Linked DNA regions of Homo sapiens: region 1 is linked to region 2. Evidence: fine-mapped expression QTL. A gene starts in region 2. The other region holds a variant in brackets. All regions are shown on one strand. Distances are between the middles of the regions. Region 1 overlaps LOC105375704 (a long non-coding RNA gene). Region 2 holds the start of RSPO2 (R-spondin 2).

Evidence for each region.
Region 1: its variant is fine-mapped to the expression of RSPO2 in esophagus muscle (GTEx, PIP above 0.99).

What each region holds. Positions count from the first base shown.
Region 1 is chr8:108,260,845-108,271,519 of GRCh38, reverse strand. It overlaps LOC105375704 (a long non-coding RNA gene), which reads left to right. Exons shown (of 3, transcript XR_928530.4): 3 at 3,098-5,521. Among named protein-coding and RNA genes, the nearest start is that of EIF3E, 17 kb to the right of the region's middle. The variant T/A (reference allele first, on the strand shown) is at 4,601.
Region 2 is chr8:108,080,602-108,091,181 of GRCh38, reverse strand. RSPO2 (R-spondin 2) reads left to right here and starts at 7,562. Exons shown (of 6, transcript NM_178565.5): 1 at 7,562-7,985; 2 at 8,375-8,637. The coding sequence starts at 8,544. RefSeq lists silencers at 8,531-8,706, 9,247-9,541 and an enhancer at 8,423-9,369.

The DNA of each region.
Region 1 (10,675 bases), 180 kb before region 2:
ACACATATACGTTATTGCATGGTGTCTATGCATGAAGACACAATACACACATGTGTTTAAGAACATTAAAAATTCAAAGTCATTTTGGAGCACAATTCTGAAATACTTATCTTAAAATGTTTAAATTTTACATACCATGAACTAACCATTCTAATTTTAGGAATTTATCTTCATAAAACTGTAGTGGACTGAATTGTGTTCCCCTAAAAGACATGTCCATGTTCCAACCCCAGGAATTTGTGAATGTTACTTTATAAGGAACAAGGGTCTTTGAAGAAGATATAATTAAGGATCTTGGGATGATGAGATCATCCTTGATTATCTGCGTGGGTCCTAAACCCAATGACAACTGTCCTTATAAGACAGAGGCAGTGGGAGAACACACAGACAAATGAGCAGGAAGCAATGAACAGGGAGGAAATGCATCCACAAGTCAAGGAATGCCAACAGCCATCAGAAGCTTGAAAATCCAAGGAACATTATCTTTACTTGAGTCCCTGGATTAGTGTGGCCCTCCTAGATTTCAGATTTATAGCCTCCAGAGCTGTGAGAAAATAAATTTCTATTGTTTCTACCCACCAAATTTGTGGTACTTTGTTACAACAGCCTCAGGAAGCTAATACAGAAATTATCCATAAAATTAATAAATATGATCAGTATAATTTTATTTATAATAGCAAAAGTAAAAGTGTCTACAATAGAGAAAGCATTAAAAAGTATACTATAGATATGACAGAATATAAATCCTGTAGCAAAATAATATAAAATAATATATTCAACATATATAAAATGAAAAAATAGTTTGCTAAACAGCCTGCAAAGTGTAATTCCATTTGTTTAAAAAGATATATTGGAAGGGTTAATATCCAGGATACATAAAGAACTTCTACAACTCAACAACAACAACAAAATAGCCTGATTAAAAAATGGGCAAAGGACTTGGACAGACATTTCTCCAAAGATGATATACAGTGCTCACTTTGGCAGCACATATACCAAAGATGATATAAAAATGACCAACAAGCATATGAAAAGATGTTCAATATCACTAATCATCAGAGAAACACCAATTAAAACCACAATAAGACATCACCTCACACCCATTTGGATGTCTACCATCCAAAAAAAAAAAAATACCCAGAAAATAATAAATATTGACAAGGATGTGAAGAAATCGGAACCTCTGTGCACTGTCTGTAATAATGTAAGATGATATGGTCACCATGGAAACAATACGGCAGTTCCTCAAAAAATTAAAAATAAAATTATAGTATAATGCAGTGATTTCATTTTTTGATGTATTTCCAAAAGAATTCAAAGCTGGATCTGAAAGAGATAGGTGCACACCCATGTTAATTGCAGCATTATTCACAATAGCCAAGAGATGGAAGAAACCCATTGTTCATTGATAGATGAATGGATAAGCAAATTGTGGTATACACGCAATGGAATATTATTCAGCCTTAAAAAAAGGAAAGAGGTTCTGACACATACTACAACATGGATGAACCTTGGGGACATTCTGCTAAATGAAATAAGCTAGTAACAACATCACAAATACTGTATGATTCCACTATCTAAAATAGTCAATTCATAGAAACAAAAAGTAGAATGGTGGTTGCCAGAAGCTGAGGGGAGGGAGAAATGGATTGTTACTGTCTAATGGGTAGAGTTTCAGTTCTGCAAGATGAAAAGTTCTGAATATGTGTTACACAACAATATGAATATATTGAACACTATTGGAATGTACACTGAAAAATAGTTTTTGAAATTTACTAAATTGTACATTTTAAATATGTGCAGTTTATTATATCAATTATACCTCAATAAAGCTGTTTAAAAATATGCTGATGGCTGGGCACAGTAGCTCATGGCTATAATCCCAGCATTTTAGAGGGCCATGGCAGGAGGATTACTTGAGCTCCGGAGTTCAAGATCAGCATGGGCAACATAGCAGGACCCCATCTCTACAAAAATATATTTTTTAAAATTAGCCAGGCATGGTGGTGCACACCTGTAGTCCCAGCTTTTTGTGGGGCTGAGGTAGAATGACTCCAGCCCAGGAGGTTGAGGCTGCAGTGAGCCAAAACTGTGTCACTGTACTCTAGCCTGGGCAACAGAGCGAGACCCTGTCTCAAAAAAATTATATACACATATATATGTAATTGTAACCCTAGCAATTGATTAAGAATAAAAACTTCAAAGTCAGACTGCTTGGCCTCAAATTCTAGCTCTACCATCTACTAGTGTTATGACCTTGGATACATTATTTAACTTTGTTTCTTGGCTTTCTCCTCTGTAAAAATAGTGTTTATAACAGTAATACCTAGATGAGCTAGTATTCATAACACAAGGTCTGGTCATAGTTTGTGCTAAATAAATGCAATGATCTATCTCACTCTTGATGTATCTCTACAAATACAGATGGCCACTGACTTACAATGATTCAACTTATGATTTTTTGACTTTACAATGGGTTTATTGGGATATTAGTTGCATTTTTGATTTATGATATTTTTGACTTATGATGGCTTTATCAGAACATACCTCTATTGTAAGTTGGTATTAGTGATTATCTCTAAGTGGCTGTTCCACCAGAGACTTTAATTATGATCTTTTCAGCTTATCTTTTTATTACATACGTGTGTGATTTTTATAATAAAAGCTATGCAAATTTTTTATACATACAAAATACATCAGATGATCTATCTAGCATAGAATTTTGTCTCTCGGTGATACTAACGAAAGACTATTTGAGCAAACATGGGCCATTTGTTATATTTCAGAAGTCCTTCTAATATTATTAGTACTATTATTGAAAAAGAGAAAGATATTACATTTGTATGAGGAAAACAGAGTTTACAAAAACAGACTGCAACTGTTGTTATGGTTATTAATCTCCTGAAAATTATGGTTGATAATCTCCTGAAATTTTATAGTAATGTCATTAACTATTAGACTCACTTTCTAACTATGTGTAAACAATAGATTGGGTGATGGAATAAGTATTTCACAGAGATGCCTTATTGATCCATTATTTTTGTAACAACGGAAAGAGCCATGGTAGATTTGGTGTTGATCCTGTTTTTCCCTCCAGACAGAGCCAGCTCTGGCCTGCTCTATCTCTCATTACTGTGATGACGGCTGTATCCAGATGCTAAACACTCCAGAGACACTCCAATGCAGTGCTAAAGACTCAAAACACTTCATCCCCAAAGAATGTAGCATTCCAGGAGAAAACAGGCCTCCTTCTGACACTGGTAAAACTGTGAAGGTGTGTGATAAATCAGGGATCAAAATGAGAGGCCACAGATTCTCTGCCCCTTACAGTGAATCCTGCTCTTCTCTTTTCAATGGAGTAACAGTCATATTTAAAAAAAAAAAAAAAAGTTTGTACAGACACACTAATGGAAACAATGACAAAATATATTCAAACATAAAGTGTTACAATAGCTAGAGGCTGTTCTAGATGGGAATCAAAGAATAAATAGCTGGAGATGTAACTAAGGATAAAAACATATGAAACGTCTTGGGCTATTTGAGGGGATTAGTTTTGAGAGGGTGGGCAGGAATAGTTTGTCCTTGGGGCAATGGTTGCTTCCATTTTCTTTCCTTCTGTTTTTCCTTGTTTTTCTTCCTTCTTTTCTCCCTCCCTTTCTCCTTCCAGCTCCCACCCTTCCTTCCTTCTTTCCTCTCTTTCTTTTTACAGAAATTTTCATTTCTTCACTGCCACAAAACAAAGACAACAGGGTGTTCAAAGTACCATTTACTTGACTCATCAACCTCCTAAAGTAATATAAATTTTTTAAAATGTAAAATAATAAATGTTATCTATATCCAAGAAAAAAAATAGTGGCCAAAAATTCTTGGCTATAAATTAGAATTCTTTTTTCACTAACAAAATCAAGTGTTTTAATCAAAAGTATGTACAAGATTGTTTCTAAAATGACCACTGCCGAAGTTTGCTAACAAAAATGCAAAACAATCTGCTTCAGTACAACAGAAATATATAAATTATGGCCACAAATGTTAATTAAAAATTTCAAAACAATAAGTTTACTTGTTTTGTTAAAGCATTATGTAATTCCTAGCATTTTTTGTTTCTTTTTGCTTTTTAATGAGGTGTCATTTATGTAAAGTACACAAGTGTACATCTTGATAAATCTTTCCATAGTCTACAGCCATGTAACCGCCAACCAGATCAAGATAGAGAACCCCTCAAAGACAATGTTTCCAAGTTTAAGTGTGTAAGACTCTCCTGAGGATGTTGTTAAAAATCTAGATTCCTAGGTCACAATCCCAGAGGTTCAATATCGGTGGGTCTAGGGTAGGGTCCCTGAGACCGATTATTTAATAAGCACTTCCACTTAGAGAAACTCTGCCCTAGAAAGAAACCTAACTTAACTCAATGGCTCTAGAAGTTCTATTACTCTCTACTTTAAAGATAATTTATTGGGAAACCTAGGTGCTTTCCTACCAAGGAAGAATATATATGACATTTGCTATCCCTGTGTAATTTTAACTTTTAGCATTGTTTTTTCTTTCTTTGAGCCAGAGTTTCCCAAATGAAGTTTCCACCAGTCCATAGAAAAATGAAAAT[T/A]AATAAGACCATATTTTTCATAAAGTTATTTATTCATAAAGTTAGATGTATCTAAAGGATTGTCATTTATTTTCAGATTATGTTCTTCCTACCTTCAGGACTTTCAAATGCTCTTTGCTTTACAAAATAATTCTAACAGTAAAATAGTATGGCCTTTTTTTCTTATTAATTCTGATAAATTAAGAGATAGAAACGCTATATTGTTCAACTTTGAAAAATCTGAGCTATCAAGCCTTCAGGTCTGCTCCTGAAATTTGAACCGATTGCCACCAGGGGAAGTAGAGTACTACAGCCTGTGTGATTTCAACTGTAGAGGCATTTTTTTCTGCCAGAGCATGTCAAATTTAACTGCAGATTTTCTACTACAGTCTTCTGTCACTTAACAATGAGGAGATGAGATATGTTCTGAGAAATGTGTCCTTAGGCTAGTTCATCACTGTGCTAACATCAGTGTGTACTCACACAAACCTAGATGGTATAGCCTACCACACACTTATGCTAGATGGTATAGCCTATTGCTCCTAGGCTACAAACCCACACAGCATGTTACTGTACTGAATACTGCAGGCAGTTGTAACACAATGGTAAGTATCTGTGTATCTAAACATAGAAAAAGTACAGTAAAAATATGTACTATAATCTTAGGAGACCATGATATAGTATATGTGGGTTTGTCACTGACCAAACCATCATTATGTGGTATATGACTGTACTCCAAAAAACAACCTTAGCTTCTTTTCTGTATATATAAGCAACATATGGTCTCTGTAAAAAACTTTCAAAGAATGGGAAAAATTAAATCAAACCATCAAACCATTGTTAATGTGTTTATTTTTTTCCATTTAATTTTAGTCTTTTTCTATGTACAATTTTTTAAACAAGTCAGGAATGAAATGAAGGTAGAAAGATAGATAGATTCATTACCACCTGATATTTTTCTTCAGCAGTTTCCAATGTCATTAAAATCCTTTCAATGTAGTTTTGTCTGTATAGTGTTCTATCTCATGAATGCATCATAATTTATTTATTTATTTATTTTTATTTTTTTGAGACAGTCTCATTCTGGCACCTAGGCTGGAGTACAATGGTGCAATCTTGGTTCACTGCAACCTCTGCCTTCCAGGTTCAAGTGATTCTCATGCCTCACCCTCCTGAGTAGCTGAAATTACAGATGTGCACCACCATGGCCGGCTAATTTTTTTTTTTTTTTTGTATTTTTAGTAGAGACAGGGTTTCGTCATGTTGGCCAGGCTGATCTCAAACTCCTGGCCTCAAGTGATCCATCCACCACCTTGGCCTCCCAAGGTGCTGGTATTACAGGTGTGAGCCACCATGCTCAGCCTCATAATTTATTTTATTAACAACCTTTTACAATTTTTAAATTTAGAGGTTATTTCCACTTTGAAAAGAGGTCAGGAGTTCCAGACCAACCTGGCCAACATGGTGAAACCCTGTCTCTACTAAAAATACAAAAATTAGCTGGGCATGGTGGTGGGTGACTGTAATCCCAGCTACTCAGGAGGCTGAGGCAGGAGAATCGCTTGAACTCAAGAGGCAGAGGTTGCAGTGAGCTGAGATTGCACCACTGCACTCCAGCCTGGGTGGCAAGAGCAAAACTCCGTGTCAAAAAAAAAAAAAGATGTAGGCTGGGTGTGGTGGCTCATGGTTGTAGTCCCAGAACTTTGGGAGACTAAGGTGGGAGGATCACTTGAGCCCAAGAGTTTGAGACCAGCCTGGGCAGTAAAGTGAGACCCCATCTCTCTCTATATATATATTTTAAAAGTAAATAACACTACAGGGAATATTTTTGTACTCACTTAAAGATAATATTTTGAATATATCTTTAAGATAGATTCTTTTTTAAAGGAAACTGATACAAGGGATATAAGGATTTTTAAGGCTTTTTATATATTGTGATTCAACGACCTATTGCTGTATAATAAAATTTCTACAACTCTGTGGCTTTAGAATCACAGCCTTCATGCTGTTCTAAGGGAGTGGTAATAAAGAAAAAAAATAACAGCCATATATTATGTCACTGCATGATGTTGACTGGGGTCACTCATGCAGCTGCATTCGGCTGAAGGCTCAACCGAGGCTGGTTGTCTAAGATGACTTCACTCATATATCTGGCATCTTAGCTGGTATATTAGTCAGTTGTTGCACTGCTGTAAATAAATACCTGAGACTGGGTAATTTTACAAAGAAAAGAGTTGGCCCACAGTTCTGCAGGCTGTACAGGAAGCATAGCAGCTTTGGCTTCTAAGGAGACCTCAGGAAACTTACAATCATGGCAGAAAGTGAAGAGAAAGCTGGTACTTCACATGGCTGAGAGCAGGAGGAAGGTGGCAGGGGAGGTGCTACCCACTTTTAACAACCAGATCTCATGAGAACTCACTTACTATTCAGTATCAAGGGGGTAATGGTGCAAAACTGTTCATGAGAACTCTGCCCCCATAATCCAATCACCTCCCACCAGGCCCCACCTCCTACACTGGGGATTACAATTCAACATGAGACTTAGGAAGGGACACAGATCCAACCCACATCAGCTGGGATGGTTGGAAGAGCTGGGAGATGACTTGGCCTCACTCTGCATAGACTGTCATAATTCAGTAGTCTAGCCTGAACTTATCTATAGGGCAGCTGGATTCCATGAAAATAAACTTAGAAGCTGCTAGGCTTCTGAAGACCCAGACCTAGAAGTCAAAGCAAGTCATGGGGCCAGCCCATATTTAGGGGGAAGAGAAGTAGACTCTACTTTTTAATGAAGAAGCTACAGATTCACATTGCAGAAGGAGACTGAGGTAAGAAGAATTGTTGTGGTCATCTTTTGGAACTAATCAACCATATATCACCATATTAGTATTTTATATAACACTAATTTACAATAAAAAAGTGTATGCAACATATACTTCCATCAGATTGCCATGAATTAAAAAGTGTCAGCAAGGATATACAGCAACAATAACTCTTATATACTCCTGAGAAGAGTGTAATCTTGAATGCCCACTTTAGAGAGCAGTTTGGTATTAACTGCCAAAGTTCATAGGTATATACCTGAAAAAATGGGTGCATGGGTAGACTAGAATATTTGTAGAAGGTTCATAGCAGCATCATTCATAGCTCAGTATAGCCCAAAACTAGAAACCCTAAACTTCATCGAGTCTAAAATAGATTTTGTGGAAATGTGAAATATTATAAAGCAGTGAAAATGAACAAACAATACACTCAGCAACATGAATGAATCCTTTACACATAATGTTGAACATAAAATCCAAGTCACAAAAGGACGGATACAGTGTGTTTTCATTTATGTAAAGTTCACAAACAAGCAAAACGGAACTGTGCTTAGGGATGCAACAAATAATATAAAAAGAAAAATTGTTACCATTTCAAAGCTAGAATAGGAGTTTGCCCCAGTGAGGATGAAGGAGGATGGAGAGGAGAATCTAGGCAGAGGAAACAGCATAACTGGATGATTGGAAGGAGCTGTTTAAATTTAAGGAAATTAAAGAAAGCCCGTGCACAAAAGGAAGAACAGGAACTTACAGGCCAATTTAAGGATTTTCAGGTTTCATGCTAAGAACAACAAAAAGCCATTGATTGGTTTTAAGCAGAGGATAATATAATCAGGTTTTCATTTTCAAAGGGTAATTTTGTCTATCGTGTGTAAATTGATTAGAGAAAGTCAAGAGTGGAAACAGGGATATAGTTAGGAATCTATTTGCAGTGGCTTCAGGTGAGAGATGATATGGCTTCAACTGGTGCAGTGACTGGAAAAGGTGAGAAAACAATAAATCTGAGATAAACTTGGAAGGTGGAATTAACGAAAGCTGATGCTTGGCAATTAAAAAAAACACAATGAGTTAGCATGACTTTTGTCTTCTGGCATGATCAACAGGGTGCCATTGATCAAGAAAGGGAACACTAGTGGAGGGCTGGACCTTGATTTTGGATTCCTGGGAGACATGCAATTGCAGATGTTAACGAATAAGTTGAATAAATGATCTGGAGCTCAGATGAGGTGCTTGAGTCAGAAAGAGGAATTTGGGAGTCATCAGCACTGATATTTTTCTCTTTTAATATACCATGGCAGTAGATGAAATGGGGCATAGCTGAAATACCAAGAGAGGTAAAATGACTCAGAAAGGACAGGTAGAAGCAAGAAGCAGTGAAGATATTAAAACTATCTATGTGCAAGACACTGTGTTTGATGCTGGGGCACATGGATGAGTAACATATGGACCCTAGTTTACTGCCAAGTAGAGGAAATAGACACTTTAGCATATAACATATATCTTACTTGGTAAATGACAGAATAAAGATAAGTACAAGATGCTGTGGGAACTCAGAGAAGGGCAGTGAAGCCTGGGAAGTCCAGTAAGAATTAGCCAGAAGAAGAAAAGTGGGAAATACAATCCAGGCAGACACAATAAGACACACAGAAGCACTGAGGCTTGAAAGAACATCATGTATGTACATGATTGCAAGCAGACCAGTATTATTAATGTACAGAGTTTGAAGGCTAAGTGACGGGACATCAGAGCAAAGAGGGAGAAAGACCCCAGTCATGGGGACCTTGGATGCCCTGCCAAAGAACTTAGGATTGAATCAGTAGGAATACAAGTGACATAGTCGTATTTGCATACTAGAAAGGTTACTTAAACTGTGAGTGAGGGGTGGGAGTAAACGGAACACAGCTGAACTGGTTAGGAAAACAATAAGTGGCTGAATAGTGGGTGCTGATAGGGACATGGGAAAATACATTTGATAAATATTTAGGACTGTTCTTTAATTCAAAGAGCCTTTCTGGAAGGTCATAAATGCTCATTTCTAGTTTGTCCTAGTTTTAAAAGCAGTTGACTGGTATTTGGGGGAGATGGCGGTGGCCCAAATTGTCAATCTCTGAATTCCTACACACACACCACACACACACACACACACACACACACACACACACACACACACACACACAGCAACTAGATGGCAAAGCCAAAACACCTAAGCAACATTTACAATAAAGCTAGGGGACCTCAAAATACAAGCAGGTGGTGGTAACCCCTCAACAGTCACAGACTGTCAGGTTCTGTGCGGGAGGAAGAAGGTAGCCATGAAGCTGAGGACTGAGATCACTGCCAGCAGGTGAGAGCAGGTGCAGGCAGGAGCCTCAGCAGCTGTGGGCTTGCAGGCCACTGCTCAGAGCAGCCAGATAGGAGACAGCACATTGTCCTCTTAGCCAGGGTGGCGCTCCTGCTGGCAGTCTGTGGGCACCGGAGCAGTCCAGCCTGCCTGTAACTCCAAAACCTGTGACTCGCCACTGCTCACTCCCATCTGGGACATGGCCCCACACTGACAAGAATCTGCTGCAAACAATCCAAAGCAGCATTGGGATAAATGGGATAAAGAAAAGTAAAGGTCCAGTGGAGAGGGCTCGGGGCCAGGAAATCCCAGAAAGCAAGCCACTGACGCTTTGACCACTATGCAAAAACAACAGAAGTGGGAGCTTCTTAAAGTCAGAAAAGATTTCCTCCATTCCATCCCATTGTAAAAATGTGGGAAAAACTAGAACTGAACACCAGGAGAGTACGGAGGGAAAATCCCATACACAATTATTATTTAAAAAAAAAAAAGGAGCAAATAAACATCTACAGACAAGGAAAGCAGGCCAGGAAGATGTGCCCACAAAACAGCTCAAAATAGTAACTTCACACGTTAAAACAAGTCTAAGAACATTAGGAAAATTATTCAAGGTTTTGAATAATGGTGTTTTGTGGAAGAATGTGTTCACTGGGTAACTTATAAGTTACAATCAGAAAAGCTCAGTACTGAGGGGACAAAACGACAAAAGAATTAGAGATAAAAGGAAAAACATTTCCAACACAAAGATGAAATGAAAAGGAATACCAGAGAAAATAAACACAAGAGATAATGCCTTAAAAGAAATAGGAATTGGCCAGGCACGGTGGCTCACGCCTGTAATCCCAGCACTTTGGGAGGCTGAGACGGGCAGATCACTTGAGGTCAGGAGTTCAAAACCAGCCTGGCCAACATAGAGAAACCTTGTCTCTTCTG
Region 2 (10,580 bases):
GAATTCCCACATTTGTTCTCTGACCTGTGTATATGTTTTTTATTTTATATCTGTAACAAAATTTTTCCATACTGTTCCAAGGTTAAAAGGGCTTCTACAGATGCACGTGATACTGCAAAGTAGCAAAGTAAAATATATTGCAAATAGCTGAGGAAAATGTGGGAAAGGGAAAATAAGGCTAGAAACTTAAAATGGAGCAAGAAATAAAACTAGTACATAAAATGTGTGACATAAACTTTTGTACATTTGCTGAGGGTGGCTGACAAATTTGTTCTTGAGCAGTAACACAATTCATTACAACTATAAGTTAAAGACAAATGGAATGATTAGGGGAGGCGTATCTATTTTGGATACCAGTACAGAAAAAAGTTCAGAGGAGGATATTTCCTGCCTTTAGGAATTACCTGTTCTATTGTTTACTTCTATTATAGCAAGCTGAGTGTCCACAAATAAAGTAAAACCAGACCTTCTATTCATTTAATGAAAACAACCTAATTTTTAAGAAAACTGAGAATCTCTTGTTACTTGTGTGGAGTAATAGTTCCTTCTAGCAACAACATTCACACCACAAGGAATGGAAATGACACATATTACTTTAGTTCAAAAGAGTTCAGGGCACACAAAATTAAATAAGGGAAATTATTTGAAAACTTTGGGTCAGATCTTGAGTTTTCTCTTTTGAGCTGGTCTGTGTTGGACTTCCTTTGAAGTCAACAAAGCTGCCTCCTGGATTTCTTCCATGGGGATGAAGCACAAAATGAGAAATAGGCTTCATCACATCAGTCCACAGATGAGTACTCAAGTGGCAGAAGGCAGTATTAACATTCGGAGGAGTCAAATATTTACACATTTTTTAAACATTAAATAAGTGATTGTGATGTGGCTTTTTAAAACAACAAATCAGCCTAGATAAGGACTGGTCAGTGACCTTGTTGAAGACCTTTCATATTAATATAATTACTTCACACAAAATATAATAAATGAACATGGGCTATCACATGCAACTGGCAAAACAGACGTGCTTATATTTAACAGGAAAAAACTATCAATAGTAGCACAATGGCAAAAATGCTATAATTTGTTCCAAAGCAATTAAAGGATAAATTCTACACTGGAAGAGTGCATACAATCAATATCAACAATGATTAAAAAGATTGTGAGAAATTTTAAATCTGAGAATGAATAACAGATAACATAAAAGATAACTCTAAATCAATTAGCTAATGAAAACAAGAATCAGTGCCAAAGTCAACCAAATCTATAAGCATAAATGCTTATGAAAGATTCAGAAAACTTTAAATCTATTCTACTGTAGCCCACACTGTACAGTCATAAAATCACTAGCATCCTATGGGTGTTAACATTGAAAAAATATATTGGAAAATTCCTAAATGAAAATCTAAAAATAATGGCACAAGGAAGAGCTTTTTCTTTCTCTTTTTAAAAAGTATACTTTAAGTTCTGGGATACATATGCAGAATGTGTAGGTTTGTTACATAGGTATACATGTGCCATGGTGGTTTGCTGCACCCATCAACCCATCATCTACATTAGGTATTTCTCCTAATGCTATCTCTCCCCTAGCCCCCAACCCCCTGACAGGCCCTGGTGTGTGATGTTCCCCTCCCTGTGTCCATGCCTTCTCATTGTTCAACTCCCACTTATAAGTGAGAACATGCAGTGTTTGGTTTTGGTTTTCTGTTCTTGTGTTAGTTTGCTGAGAATGATGGTTTCCAGCTTCAACCATGTCCCTGCAAAGGACATGAACTCTTCCTTTTTTATGGCTGCATAGTATTCCATGGTGTATATGTGCCACATTTTCTTTATCCAGTCTATCACTGATGGGCATTTGGGTTGGTTCCAAGTCTTTCCTGTTGTGAATAGTGCCACAATAAACATATGTGTGCATGTGTCTGTATAGTGGAATGATTTATAATTCTTTGGGTATATACCCAGTAATGAGATTGGTGAGTCAAATGGTATTTCTGGTTCTAGACCCTTGAGGAATTGCCACATTGTCTTCCACAATGGTTGAACTAATTTACACTCACACCAACAACGTAAAAGTGTTCTTATTTCTCCACATCCTCTCCAGCATCTGTTGTTTCCTGTCTTTTTAATGAACACCATTCTAACTGGCATGAGACGGTATCTCATTGTGGTTTTGATTTGCATTTCTCTAATGACCAGTGATAATGAGCTTTTTTTCATATGTTTGTTGGCTGCATAAATGTCTTCTCTTGAGAAGGGTCTGTTCATATCCTTTGCCCACTTTTTGATGGGGTTGTTTTTTTCTTGTAAATTTGTTTAAGTTCTTTGTAGATTCTGGATATTTGCCCTTAGTTAGATGGATAGATTGCAAAAATTTTCTCTCATTCTGTAGGTTGCCTGTTCACTTTGATGATAGTTTCTTTTGTTGTGCAGAAGCTTTTTAGTTTAATTGGATCCCATTTGTCAATTTTGGCTTTTGTTGCCATTGCTTTTGGTGTTTTAGTCATGAATTCTTTGCCCATGCCTATGTCCTGAATGGTATTGCCTAGGTTTTCTTCTAGGGTTTTTATAGTTTTAGGTCTTACGTTTAAGTCTTTAATTCATGTTGAGTTAATTTTTGTATAAGGTGTAAGAAAGGGGTCCAGTTTCAGTTTTCTGCCTATGGCTACCCAGTTTTCCAACACAATTTATTAAATAGGGAATCCTTTCCCCACTGCTTTTGTCAGGTTTGTCAAAGATCATATGGTTGTAGATGTGTGGCCTTATTTCTGAGGCCTCTGTTCTGTTCCATTGGTCTATATATCTGTTTTGATACCAGTACCATGCTGTTTTGGTTACTGTAGCCTTGTAGTATAGTCTGAAGTCAGGTAGCATGATGCCTCCAACTTTGTTCTTTTTGCTTAGGATTGTCTTGGCCATATGGGCTCTTTTTTTTGGTTCCATATGAAATTTAAAGTAGTTTTTTCTAATTCTGTGAAGAAAGTCAATGGTAGCTTGATGGGGATAGCATTGAATCTATAAATTACTTTGGGCACTATGGCCATTATCATGGTATTGATTCTTCCTATCCATCAGCATGGAATGTTTTTTCCATTTCTTTGTGTCCTCTCTGATTTCCTTGAGCAGTGATTTGTAGTTCTCCTTGAAGAGGTCCTTCACATCCCTTGTAAGTTGTATTCCTAGGTATTTTATTCTCTTTGTAGCAATTGTGAATGGGAGTTCTCTCATGATTTGGCTCTCTGTTTGCCTATTGTTGTATAGGAATGCTTGTGATTTTTGCACATTTATTTTGTATCCTGAGATTTTGCTGAAGTTGCTTATCAGCTTAAGGAGATTTTGGGCTGAGACAATGGGATTTTCTAAATATAGGATCATGTCATCTGGAAAGAGAGACAATTTGACTTCCTCTCTTCCTATTTGAATACCCTTTATTTATTGCCTGATTGCCCTGGCCAGAATTTCCAATACTATGTTGAATAGGAGTGGTGAGAGAGGGCATCCTTGTCTTGTGCTGGTTTTCAAAGGCAATGCTTCCAGCTTTTGCCCATTCAGTATGGTATTGGTTGTGGGTTTGTCATAAATAGCGAGGAAGAGCTTTTTCAAGTATGACACAGAGAAGCTATAAAAGATAAGACTGGCAAACTGCACTATGTAAAAGTATTTAAAATTTTTTTACATATTAATATACATCAAAAACAAAGTCAAAAGGTAAATAAGAAACTTGGAAAAATATGCAACTCAAATCACAAAAGACATTATATCAATACATGCAAATTCTACAAACAAAAACAAATGACCAAGAACACAATAGAAAAATAGGCAAATTATATCTTCAGAGAGTTCATGGAAAAGAAAATACAAATGGATGGAGCATACTAAAGACACACAAAATTTCATTTAAAAGAAAATAAATACAAATTAACACTTTACTGAGATACGACTTTTTGCCTACAAGTGTCAAAAGTCAAAAAGTGTTGGTCAGCATCTAGAGATAGGCATTTTCACACGGTGTAATATGAAAGAACCTTTGTGAAAGGCAATTTGCAGAACACACACACATATATCCAACTGTTTGATTCAACTTTTCTACTTTTAAGAATTTATAATGGAAAGGTAAAATGACACATGAAAAAGTTAATTGAAGCATTGCTTAAGATACAAAAAGTATGAAAACAATCTAAATGTATATTGATAGGGAGGCTGGCTAAATACAGCCATACGATGAAATAATATGTGACTATATAAAAAGAACAGGACAGTTCTCTATGAACTGATGCCATGGTGGCTCACGCCTGTAATCTCAGCACTTTGGGAGGCCGAGGCAGGCGGATCACGAAGTCCGGAGATCAAGACCATCCTGGCTAAAACGGTGAAACCCTGTCTCTGCTAAAAATACAAAAAGTAGCTGGGTGTGGTCGCATGTGCCTGTAATCCCAGCTATTCGTGAGGCTGAGGCAGGAGAATCGCTTGAACCAGGGAGTCGGAGGTTCCAGTGAGCCCGGATCGTACCACTGCACTCCAGCCTGGCGACAGAACAAGACTCCATCTCAAAAAAAAAAAAAAAAAACAACCCCTCAAGGTACAGATTAGTGAATACAGTATTCTACTAATTGCATAAAAGAGAGGAAGAATATATTATAAAACAGAGAAGGAAGAATGTATTATATATATGTATACGCACATATTATATGTATGCCTATATATGTGCATGTACATATATATAATACATTCTTCCTTCTTTCCTTGCTTGATAAGCAAAAAGATTATCAAGTTACTTGTTTGATAAGCACCAAACATCTTCTGAAGTATACCAAAAACCGTGAACACTTGTAAAAGAATAACTGATTGACTCTAAGGAGAACTGGATGCCTGAGAGAAGGAGGTAGGAGAGACTTTGCCCTGTTATGGTGTTTTGTAAGGATTGAATTTTGAGCTGTATGAACGAATTACAAGTCAAAAAATAAAATACAGAAGTTATCTCCTCTCTATAACATCATCCCCCACTTCTGCCCTCAGTTAACTTTCCCTATCACCAATGAGTGGTATAGAGTCAACCTCCTCAGTATATCAGTATACTTCTCTGTAAACAGAACCCAGGCACAAGTCTATTTACAAAGCCAGTTTAATGAAACCACTATATAAACTCAGTTTGAAGAAAAAGTCCATTGAGTCTCCAAGATGGAGAAACTGTGAGCTGTGAGCCTCAACAACACCACATTCTGAGTTTAGAAATGAAAGGAAGCAGAGATATGGGATTAAAGTTAATGATAGTCTAGGATCCATTAGGGTTGTATTTTTTAGTAGCAAGAACATTCCTGGGATTTTGAAGTCAGGAAAAATATTCAGTGAATGTAAAAAAAAAAAATTCTGCATTATCAACAAATTAGCCCCAAAGTGATTAAGTGTGAGACTCCAAGTACCCCAAGAACTAAGTCTGACAGAGTTTTAAGGTTCACTGGTGTCTTTTAAGAGGCAGAGATAGACCAGGAGGGAGCAAAAGAAGGAATTAAGAATTTTCCTTTCTTCCAGAGCCTATTCTTTTCTTACTAAACACATTAACCAATTTTCTACAGAAGTGGTACTGTCAAAATTCTTCCTCATGAACTGAATCTGGGGGTTCACTAAACTGAAAAGCATCTCTGGCTAAAAATGCACCAACTGTACAACACAAAAGATTAAAATTAAAATTATGGAAAGTTGTCTTTGAAGGGATAAGGGTGAAGTGGTCTGTAAATTTAACTAAGGAAGGCAGTGGCTAACCCTCTTCTTTCTACACAAAGAACCCATCACTGATGAGTTTGCCCTTACACTGGTTAGATACCATAGCAAACTTCCTAGTACAAATAGAAAATTGATTGTAAACCAGAACATGTAGAAGTGAAAGAGACCTTGGACAGACTTCCTAAAAATACTGCCAAGGAAACTGAGACCAAGAAAATTGCCCAAAGTGACGCAGGTGATTAATGGTAGCGCTACCTCTGCTTGGTCTTGTGTTTACTTTTGCCTTTAAATATTTTAAAAGACACTGATGACCACTGATCTTGAATGGATCTCAAAGCTTTGCAAGGAGGCAGGGGGGCTTACTTAGGGAAGACTTCCTTTCTCCCATAGATTTAACTCCTTTATAAGTATAATTCATTTGTTGTGTGCATATATGACTATATTTGGAAAGAAGTAGTATTTATGGTGCTGAAGAGATATTCAGCATCATATCAAGATGATCAAGAAATATCAAGTTATGCCAAACACTGGGGCCACTCCCTACACTGAAATGTTTCCAAATTCTGTGATAAAAATCAAAGGCTCAAAAGTCAAGAAACAGATCCACTGTTTCTGCAATGTGTTTTGTGAACTCTATTTGTGCCCTGTGGGCCAGTCTCAGTGATGGATTTTCTTATCTATGAAATGGGACCAATGACCTCAACTCAGATTTACTTGGGTGTTCTCAGGCATGCATCAAAGGCATACTGCTGAAATTCTTAGCACATAAATACCACTATGTAATAGTGAGTCTGTAAAATAGTTATGAATAGGCAATAATGGAATAGTTAATAAATATGAGTATTGCAATATTCTTTTTATATGATTGTCTTTTAAGTCATCAAATTTCTGAACATCTTCTGAAACTGAAGGAATAGAAAAGGGAATTTAAATAGTATAAAATGCTATCATAATAATATGGTAACTGCGGGCATATCTATAGACATTCATACTGCCACGGTTAGTGGCATAAATTCTTATCTTTTGCTTAAGGAATAAATACATTTTTTCCTACAGTAGTGAATGCAGGACAGATTTCACCAGAATGAAATTGGATGGCATCAAGTCTATTTAATGTAACACTTTGTTAAACAGAATATTTTCCCCAAACCCAAAGCACCTAAAAGTTTAATTCAGGAGACTTTGGAAATGAGAGGAGGATTAAGAATGAAAAATACTTTAGTGGGAAGTGAACTTTTTAAAATTATTTTTAAAGAATCAAGGCCCCAACTTCTTCAGCACTTCAGGCAACGGATCACAGGTTTTTGTTTTATTGGAGAAGAAACAAAGTAAATAACAGTTCTGAGGATGAACAAAAGCTGTTGGGAATACCCATTTCACTCCTCAAAGTGGGGGCGCGTTTTATGAATAATTTCAGCCGGCTAACATACCTTCCTGCAAAACACAGACAAGATGTAAATTAAAAAGTGGCAGAGTTGTGGCATATTGCAAAAGTTTAAAGGGAGTCATCAGTCCTTCAGTCAGATCTCCCTGCAGAAAGGTTGGCGCTGAGGTTGGAACTGACCCTAGAGGGCTGGAGAGGACCCCTTGGGGGTGAGCAGCCGGGTTCTGGGACCCAGCAAGGTCAGGGGGCGTCTCCCCAGCTACTCTTTATCTATCCCCCGCACTCTGGAAAGCCCGAAGAGGATTCGCTCCAAGTTAGGCGCGCTGTTGGCTGTCAACGTTCTTTAGGACCTCAGGGAAACCGGGACGTTTCTGGCTTTAGGACCCAGGAACTCCGAGGCAGCCTAGACTTAGATGCCTTGGACCACAGCACCACCTACTTATAGAAGCATCCCAAGCCTCAGCCGGTCTGCATCTCCATCGGAAAGTGCGCTTGCCACATCCCTTCGGATCACTTCGTCCTCCCGAGAGCGTTCTGCCTTCTACAGCTCGGAAAGAAAGAAATCTTAGCTGTGAAGTGACCGTGGAGAAAGCGCAGGAAGCGACACAATTGGTTAGGGAGGCAGAGAGTGTGAGCGGGCGCACCCCTTGCCTGGGGACCGCGCTCGCGGGCGGGGACGGAGCATCCCAGTGGCTGCACCCGCCGCTCCGCGCTCCTGCCTGGCGTCGCCAACCCCGCGGCGGCCGCTGGAATTCCAGAGCTGCCAGGCGCTCCCAGCCGGTCTCGGCAAACTTTTCCCCAGCCCACGTGCTAACCAAGCGGCTCGCTTCCCGAGCCCGGGATGGAGCACCGCGCCTAGGGAGGCCGCGCCGCCCGAGACGTGCGCACGGTAGGCAACCCACACCAAGGCAGCCGCAGCTGCGGCGCTTGGGTACACCGCCGTGGACTCCAAATGGCCTAAGAGCGTTCTTTTAGCCCTGCGCTCTCAGTGCCTTTAGAGTTCTTTCCTTTCCCCGGAGCGCCGGCACAACGCATTATGCCGCTGGGTCGGAGCTTAGGGCTCGGCAGAGGTTGCTAATTCACTGATTATAATCACCTTCCTCTCCAACTCGTCCGCAGCTGCCCGCTCTGGATTAAGCCGCTCCGCGGCTCGTGCTAGGCAGTGGGTTCGCTTCCTCCTTCCCTCTCTTCTTTAAATTGGGACGTGCGAAGGCGCAGCTGCCTCCCCGGGGCTCTCTCCATCCCCCACACACCCTGTTTTCGCTTCTTGTCTCTCAGGTTCGTGGCGGAGAGATGCTGATCGCGCTGAACTGACCGGTGCGGCCCGGGGGTGAGTGGCGAGTCTCCCTCTGAGTCCTCCCCAGCAGCGCGGCCGGCGCCGGCTCTTTGGGCGAACCCTCCAGTTCCTAGACTTTGAGAGGCGTCTCTCCCCCGCCCGACCGCCCAGATGCAGTTTCGCCTTTTCTCCTTTGCCCTCATCATTCTGAACTGCATGGATTACAGCCACTGCCAAGGCAACCGATGGAGACGCAGTAAGCGAGGTGGGTCCCTCTCTGCCAAAGGTGCGTGGTGGGCTTCAGGGGTGGCGTGTGGAGGCGCTCACTCACGCCCTGGCTCCGGGGGCTCAGATGGTCAGGGCTGTGCTCTCCACCCCAGCTTTTGCGGGTCCCCAGTCCCCACCTTTAGGACCCTGGAGCTCTACAAAACACTCTGTTTTCTGTACCCTGGAGGCGCGGGGAGCCGGAGCGAGACGCGCTGGGAGCTCGGCGAGCCGGGCGCCAATCGGGCGCTCAGGGCTAAGTCGTGCGGTCCGCACTCATGTTCGCCGCCCCACCTCCTCATCTAAACTTGTCTCTTTAGGACGTATTTCTTATCTGACATGCATTTTTTTTTTGTCGTCGTTGTTCTTCTCTCTGTCCTCCTAACCATCTTCCCTGTAGCTCATTTGTTTTATCTTCCCCATCCACGTGCGCCCCAAACCCGGCCTCAGATCTCTTCGGACTTGACCTAGCATAGTGTGTGTGTGGTGTGTGGGTGTACCCAAGCGTGTGTCTGTATTCCGGAGCTTGGGAGGGGTACCAAGTCGAGGGGGAGGACCTCCCTTTCCAGAAAAAGGCCAACATAGATCTCTTTTTTCTGGAAACTGCGACGAGATGGGAACTTTCTGAATTAAGCAGCAATTCCCGCGCTGGTTTTCTGGGGAGTCCTCGCCTCCAGAGGTTTGTTTTTAAAACAGGCCCCACTTCGCTCTCTCCATTTGCTTTGCAAAAGCAGCCACACCGGTGGAGGCTTCTGTTCTCAATGAAATTCACTTGCGGCTTTTTAACTGCTCCCTCCCTCTCCATCACTTGTGCGTAGCGGAGAAGGCGGGTGGAAGCCTCCAGAAAGGTTTCGGGGAACTCGCTTTCCTGCAGATTTAGTGCGTATTTCTGTCTCGGAGTCCGCTGGAGATGCAACTAATCCAACTGCATTTTAGAAGAAGGGCGGCTAGACACGATTCAATTTTCTGGGTGGATTTAAACATAAACCACTCACCACACGCACATCGAATTACCCGCGCAGGAAGGGCGCGCAGCAGCCCCTTCCCAGGGACCTGGTGAGAGCTGTCTATTTCATTCGGCACTTTGGACTTTTGCGCAATTAGAATTTGTCGCCGGGTTCATGAATGTTGACTTTTTCTCCAAGATGTAAACATCTCACTCGATCTGTGATGTGATTTGTTTATAACTCATTGTGTGTAATCTCCGCTCCTGCATCCAGATTTTGAGGAGGACTTTCCGAACCTTATTTTTTTGATGGCTTTTTAGGACATTGTTAAGCTGTTCTCACCTAGGGGCAGAGCTAGAGATTGGCCCACCTGAGCGCAGAGCTCCAAATAACTGATGGTGTGCGACTTCTGTAGTCCCTGCGCTTCAATTGTCTCTGTATCTGCGGCTTGTAAGAATAAACCTTCTCCAACTTCTCTCCCTCCCTCTCCCCCGATTTCTGACTTTTGGAAATTGTTTATTTTCAGAAATTATTTTACTTAAAAATACTAGAGAGAAATTTCTTCCCAAAGGCCATGAGAGTTTGATATTGATACTTGTCTTGAAAAAGTCCCTTTTTATCTCCTCTCTCCTCCCCTCCTGATTCCTTTCTCAATCCCAGTACTTTCTTTCGAGTATTCGGCAGAGCCAGCAATTTTTGATTACATTATGGTCAAAAGTGTTTGGAGAGGCTTTTCCTCTTTTTATAAGTCAAAGCTGCAGTCTACTTAGAAAAACTAAAGTGCTTGAAGTCTGCAAAATATAGAAATGTCTAAAATCCTTTGCCAGATCCTTATTAGATGACTTGCTAATTCAGTGATGGCTTTCTGATCCACCCTGCCTGTCCCATTGTGGTTGAGTGGGGAAGAACCAAGCATATTGTTTTAGTAGAACTTAATGCAGAGATGCTGTTTGGTGGAAAAGGACATTACAGCACTCCTGCGGCCAGAAGGGATACT